Linked DNA regions of Homo sapiens. The protein of the gene in region 1 purifies or fractionates together with the protein of each later gene. This does not show direct contact. Each region holds a gene or a part of one and is shown in the gene's direction. Other genes may lie near its edges.

Region 1 (3,269 bases):
TAAAGATCTCCATTCATATCTTTACCTTTTATCCCTTGTTCTGAGTGCCAAGAATTAATGCTATTTGAAAGTACAAACTGAACCTGCCAAGCTTCGGACAGCTAAGATAATCCTAATTATTTTAAATGTTAGTGAGAAGGGCAGCAGTTCCACTCTGGAAAAGAGTTCTATTGTGAAACATTAAATATATGCTAAGTGGTATTGATTGCACATGATTTTATTTCCAAACACTATGGTTATCATGAAGTGGAAGAATTTGTTGTTTAAGAAATTTTCATCAGCTTTTCATCAGATTCTTTCTTATGCCTACAAAGTCTAGGAAACTGAAGAGGCCAGCAATTTTGTTTGTCTGCCTTGGCAGTCAGCATCTAGATGAAGAGTTGGTAACAACTGAAAAATGCCACTTGTATTTTATTTTAAAATGGTTTCTTAGGAGTTTAATAGTGTTTAACATATAGAGGAAGGAAAAATGTTTTTAAAGCATGAATATCCTGTTTTCTCACATCACTGGAAGAGAATTATTCGTTCCAGTCCATTGACTTCCAACAGATCATTCAAGTTAAAAGTCAGGGGTCTTTGCAATGTCAAAAGATTTAGCACTTAGAGTTTTGTGGTTTTTTTTTTAAGAAGGTTTTCTTTTTTGACAGTATAAATATTTTTCAAAAATAATACTCATGGTTAGATGGCATCAAAATCATCTTGAAGTGTTTTTTCCCCTCATTGGTAAGAATGATCCTGTGTAAGGTTTTCTGTTTATTTTTAAATCATAATAAAATAACATCCCAGTAGCTTCGGTAGACAAATAGGCTTCTTGAGAGAAAACAGATACTAGATTTGCTGGTTCAAACAAGGGTCAGCCTCGGAGGTTTACCCACCTTTCATTGTAACACAAAAAAATATCAGATGGGCAAGTTTTCCTTTTTTCTTTTCCTTACTTTTCAGTCTCTGCTGTGGTGTGCAGAAATAATTTCTTCTATTTCTGTAAATGCTGGGAGGCTATCAATGATTATAGGGTAGTATAATCCTTAATTGTTTATTGCCTGTGAATGCTTCCTGCCCCCAACCCCAGTGCAGCTGGCCCCAACTCCCTTCCCCAAGCACAAGAGCAGTACACTAACATCTTCACTGACGGTGTGTTGAGCATCTCAGGCTCAATTATTCTTCCTTTCTTCGGGGTTATTCCCCAGAGTGGAATTACCAGGTCAGAGGGGCTGAACAGCTTTATGGTTCTTATTACATGTCACTAGATTGCTGTCCAGAGAGATTGAACCAATTTCTAGTGCTACCAATACTATCTGTTCCCCCACAGTGCCACTGACGCTAGGAGTTAGCATTTTTACAAAATGACCTAAGACAAGACTTTTGAGTTGAAATTAGCCTGGTGTAGGGCCCCTTAGAATCAAAGAGCGAAAAGCATCATTTAGATTTTTGAATTTTTAATTGGTATGAAATAATTTACAACGGTCAACTATTAGCCTTCTCCTTCCAAAAGTTTAAGGAAGCTGCATTAAAATGGAAAAGGTACCTCTGAGGGACGATCTTTAAGGATGGTAGTAAAAGTGATTTTGGACATTAGTCACTAAGGAAAAACACACTAAATCTTTTCACGTACCTAGAACTCTATGAGGGGCTATACTTAAACAGATACTATCCCTAACTTCAACAGCCTATTATTTAAAAACAATGCTAAGCCTTGAACAAATGTAAAAATAGCATGGGTTTAAATTTTGAGTGGAGAAACACTATAAACAATACGGCTGTTTTTCAAAACAGGGTGAGTTTTACATTTTCTCTAGAGTGCAGTCATGCATTAAAAGTATGCTTGGAGCCCCGCTAGTCCATGCAGGTAATATTCTGCATGCTTTGTGGCCCCACGTCGCAAGAGCACTTTCCAAGAAAATATTCATAAGGCAAGTTAGAGCAAAAGGGGGATATTGTCAAATTCCTTTCTTTTGCAAAATTCCCACTCCTCCCCTTTTCAGTCCCAAGTTGGCTAAATGAGGAGAGGGCATCTCCCGGGGCATCTCCCAGTCAGCTGCTAACTGGAAACAGGCCCAGGGCTCTGAACATGTTGGGAGAACACATACCTATTCCTTTACAAGCCTCTGCATCAGCTTGGCAAAGGTCCGTTGCTTTGCCTCCTTAAACTCACACAGGGATTGGGAAGGTTCAGCTGCCAGTTCTGAAATGTGGGGCCCAGGAGAAGGTTGGTGCAGGGGCCAGAGCACGCCAGAGTCAGCCTAATCAGTACAGTGCTGCCCTTGACAGCTTGCACAGGATCCCTGTGTTAAACGGGGAGAGTAATTCTCTCAGTGAATGGTTTGAGGGTGAAATACCTCACTAAAGTATGTGTGTGGCATACAGGTAGTAGTCAGTAATGTTTACTGTTCTTCTCCATAGCTTCTATACAGAGAAACTTCTGTCACTGGTTGGGGGTGGGGACATTAACGCACGGACTCCAGGAAGCTCTTAGTCGGCTCTCCAGATCTGTATAGTAACAAGATCTCAAAGCAGTCTGCTGCCTTTGGAAAACATTTCTCTGTACATATATATGACAACCAGGTGCATGTATACAATTAATAAATCACCTTGGATTTGCATGGAATTTAAATGCATATAACAATACAAATTTAGTAAGATACTTTTATGAACTGTAATAAGATGAAGGCTTCATATTTCCTAGATTCCTAGTTTTGGTTGCTATATTTATATATGCATATGCGTGCTTTTTTGTTATGAAATACTACTTAATGACTCCCTTTAAATTAAAAAAAAATATTTTCCTATATTTTAAAGCTTACAAACTTATCCTTTGCTTTTTATTTACCTTATTAAAGACTAAACAAATCTATCAATATAAAAAGTAACCACTTGTCAGGAAATTGCCTAAATTGTTTTTCAAATTTATTCACTTACTGAATTTTCAGATCATCTCTTTCCTTCTTGGATATTGAGGTAGCTGTACAAAACTATCCATTTGTCTATCTGTCTACCCATATGTCACACTGGAAGAAGGGGGCCTTCTGAAAGAATGTGGTCCAGTGGAGTGGTTAAGGGCCTGCTTCTTAAATCCTAGCTCTGTTCTTTTATTTCTGTGTGGTTCCACTAGCTGCAGCAAACCTTTTCCAAACCCGTAACGAGTGTAAATAGTGTTCAGTTGTAAAAAGGTCTCTTTTCAGCATGGTAATATACCTTATTAAATTCCAAACATAATAAGTATTGATGGCAAACACATCAGGACCCAGTGCAGCTTCTACTATGATTTAGTT
Region 2 (3,822 bases), on another chromosome or scaffold:
GGCTTGAGAACCACTGCCTTGTGGATACAGATTGTCAGACAAGCAGTAATTCTCTCCGTGCTCCAGAAGGGCAACTTTACTTTCTGACCCAGATTCAGGCGGCTTTACTTGTTCTCGTATGGACTGAAGCCAGAGACTGGGATTCTCTTTGTAGTCATGTCTTACAAGGTTTAGGGTAACCACACTGTCACAGAAAGAATCAGGTGTCCTTTACACATCCTGGTAACTGGCTGTCTGGGTCAGGTTACACCAGGTAGGGGTCATGGGACTACCTAGAGTCTGAACAGAGCATTGTCAGAACTAGTGTGGTTTGTGATGCTTGCGCTGTGGGCCACACCTCTGCAAGCAGGAGGGAAGGAATGAGGAACAGCCTTCTCAGGTCTGAATCCTCAAAAGGAGGCCTCCAGGTTTCTCCTGTTCTCACGTCCCTGTTTTCATTCCTGTTGGCCTCCAAACATTGCAGCTGTTCTCTCCTAAGCCATTTTCCCCTGTTGCTTAGTTTCTTTCCCTTTCTTCCAAAATGGGATTCCCTAAATAAGTATTTGGGCCTTTTTTATTTAAAAGATTAAACTGTAGATCTAAGTAAAGTAAGACTGTGCAGAAGAATGACAAACATTTGAGAAATTTCAGAGTTCTCCATAGCCACTGTCCCTTGTGCAGAGTTCTAGATTCCCTATCAGATAGTTCCCAGAAACCCAGGGGCCAGGCATGGTGGCTCATGCCTGTAATCCCAGCACTTTGGGAGGCCGAGGCGGGCGGATCACCAGAGGTCAGGTGCTCGAGACCAGCCTGGCCACATGTCGAAACCCTGTCTCTACTAAAAATACAAAAATTAGTCGGGCACAGTGGTGCATGCCTGTAATCCTAGCTACTCGGGAGACCGAGGCAGGAGAATCGCTTGAACCCAGGAGGCAGAGGTTGCAGTGAGCTGAGATTGCACCACACCACTGCACTCCAGCCTCAGCGACAGAGTGAGGCTGTGTCTCAAAAAAAAAAAAAAAAAAAAAAAAGATAGTTCCCAGAAACGCTTAGTTCTTCTCTTGCCTTCTTTTTTTCCTGAAAGTCCGCTCAGAACTTTGCCATTCTCTGGATCTTCTGGTGAAAACAGCTTTCATTTATTGTATACCTGCTGTATAGCAAGCATTGGACTAAATGCTCCCTGTATATTACGGGGTTTTAAAATCAAAACACTCCAGTTTGGTTATTATTACTTCCACTTTACAGATAAGGAAATTGAAGCTCAAGTAGATTGAAAGGCACTTATCCGAGATCTTACAGCTAGGATGCCCCTTCTTTATTAAAAGTCCTTGATATAGACATAGGCCTGAGGAAACAACAGCAGTCACCTCAAATGATTTCTTCAAATAAACTTTTTTAAATATTTTAAATAAAAAATATAGATGGGGTTTCACCATGTTGCCCAAGATGATCTCAAACACCTCAGCTCAAGCGATCCTTCTGCCTCAACCTCCCAAAGTCTCAAATGATTTTTGAGAATGAGATGGACTATAAAATTGGGAAAAAGGTCAGAAGAGAAGGTGAAATTGTAGGTCATTCAGGTAACCCCAAATTTCTACGCTGTAGAAAGGGCAGCCCCAATCCTGGGAAAGTTTAGAAATACCATTCTCTGTCTCCTCCCCTTTTCAGGATCCCGAGGCTTTTGTAAAACAGCATCCTGATCATCTTGGCTTTCTCACCTGCCTGCTGCTAGTACAACAATGAAACTAAGCTGGAGCTGGAAACCCGTGGACATATACCCGTTCTGTCTTTTTTTTTTTTTTTTTTTTTTTTTTTTAGATAGAGCCTGGCTCTGTCCCCCAGGCTGGAGTGCAGTGGTGCAATCTCGGCTCACTGCAACCTCCACCTCCCAGGTTCAAGTGATTCTCCTGCCTCAGCCTCCTGAGTAGCTGGGATTACAGGCGCGTGCCACCACACCCAGCTAATTTTTGTATTTTTAGTGAAGACAGGGTTTCGCCATGTTGGCCAGGCTGGTCTTGAACTCTTGACCTCAGGTGATCCACCTGCCTCAGCCTCCCAAATTGCTGGGATTACAGGCATGAGCCACGGCACCCGGCCTACCCATTCTGTCTTAAGCCAGATGGACTTTGGAGGAGCAGGTAGTGGGGCCCCAGTCTGTCCATTCTCACTATAGGGCACTGTTTACTCTCAGGAATTTCTTCTTTTTACAGTTAATATAAAGCAAAACTGCAGGTGACTTGATTTTTAAACCCACATTTTAGTACTTTGGGGAAAAAATAGCATTTTGGGTTTGGTGCTCTGTTTAGAGCTCTTTATTGTGGTCATGAATGGAGTGGGAACAGAAGGCATTGATATAGTAAGTTGGCCAGCATGTATTCTTTGAGAGTTTACTGAGTGCAAGGCACTGAGGGTACAGAGTTGAATCTGTTGTGGTCGTTGCCCTCAGAGCCTCACAGCCTAATCCAGGAGAAAGGCCGCCATAGTCCAGTGGGGTAAATGCTGTGATGGGATATGTTCAGAGTCCTGTGGACACCCAGAAGGGGGTTACCTAACCCCCTCGGGTTAGTCAGAGTGTTCTCTGAAGAGACAGGGTGTAAACTGAGTGCTCCAGAGATCCGGTGAGCAGTGTATGAGGAGAGAAAGTGGGGAAATGTCCCAAGCAGAGGAACCTGCATGTGCAGAGACCCCGAGGGAAGAGAAAACATGGTGTGTGTGATCAGTCCGTATTTGTTGACTGCCTACTGTGCACTCATGTAATCCTGTGAGAAAGGTGTCTGCTGAAACCAGCTCAGAGGGGACTACCCTTAGATCACAGGGCTCAAGCTTAAGCGGATTCCACATCCTATAACTCATACATTACCTTCCATCTGGCCTTTAGACTAGGCTGTGGAGTTTAGGGCCAAGCCCTGCTACCCTGGTTTTCTCACTGTTGCCTCTGAAGGTGAAAGCTGCAGGCACACCCCCTAGGAATCACACAAAAGACTGGGGTTTTCCCTCCGTCCAGAGAGTCCGGGAGGAAAGCTGCCCCTCGGAGCCACTCCAAGTTGTCTCTTGCCCTCTCCTAGCAGCTCTCTGGGATGAACTGGCCTTTCCCACCCTGGGTGAGGTGGGAGGGGTCCTCATTTTAGAGAAGGAAAAGCAAAGATGACACAAGGTGAACCTGTGACTTGGGATGTTTCTTGCCTGTGTTCCAGTCCCACCTCTGCCACTAATTATGGCAGTGAGGAAATCACGTTAGTCTCCAATTATCTTCAGTTACTCCTTGATAAAATGAAGAGAGTGACCAAGGTCAGCAGTGGTAAATATGGGTATGTGTGCTGTCCCCATGCAGACCTTCACAGTCCCTTTCTGTAGACCTCAAAACCTACACACCTCTTTATCACATTCTCCCCAGACAACGCTCTTCCTGCCAAGACAAGACGGGCCCTCAACATCCTTCTCAGCATAACACTGCAGCCATGGAAATTATCATGAGACGTGAATCCTCTTTGCTCCAACAATTGTCCGGCTGTGACAATTCTAGGAAAGTAACACAGGCATTGACTGCCTGCTCACCAATGGTTGTTCCAGCAGCCTCCAGGGAGCAATGATTTTGTTTGAAATCTGGGATCCTGGGCACAAGATGTTACCAAGGACCCCCTCTTGGCCCTTGGTTCATTACACAATCAATAGCCCTCCCAGCCTCCAGCCAGACAGGAGCTGCATGGTTGTGTTTTTACCTGTCAAAGAGATCCAAGCAGCTTGCAGGTAGGGACTGTGCCCCCAAGAGTTGGTCCTCAGCAAGTTGAGTGACAGACTGCAACTCCCTTGTAGTGGAGTTTCCCTGGTGTCAGCAGATGTAGC

Evidence for each region.
Region 2: the proteins of DMRT1 (region 1) and MECR purify together in Homo sapiens (affinity purification with mass spectrometry; one large-scale study listed by BioGRID and IntAct). This does not show direct contact.

The regions. Positions count from the first base shown.
Region 1 is NC_000009.12:963,584-966,852, forward strand, and holds part of DMRT1 (doublesex- and mab-3-related transcription factor 1), read left to right. Parts: intron 1-3,269. UniProt on the Homo sapiens protein: Transcription factor that plays a key role in male sex determination and differentiation by controlling testis development and male germ cell proliferation.
Region 2 is NC_000001.11:29,224,141-29,227,962, reverse strand, and holds part of MECR (enoyl-[acyl-carrier-protein] reductase, mitochondrial), read left to right. Parts: intron 1-1,934; exon of another isoform or gene 1,935-2,211; intron 2,212-3,146; exon of another isoform or gene 3,147-3,240; intron 3,241-3,351; exon of another isoform or gene 3,352-3,822. UniProt on the Homo sapiens protein: Catalyzes the NADPH-dependent reduction of trans-2-enoyl thioesters in mitochondrial fatty acid synthesis (fatty acid synthesis type II).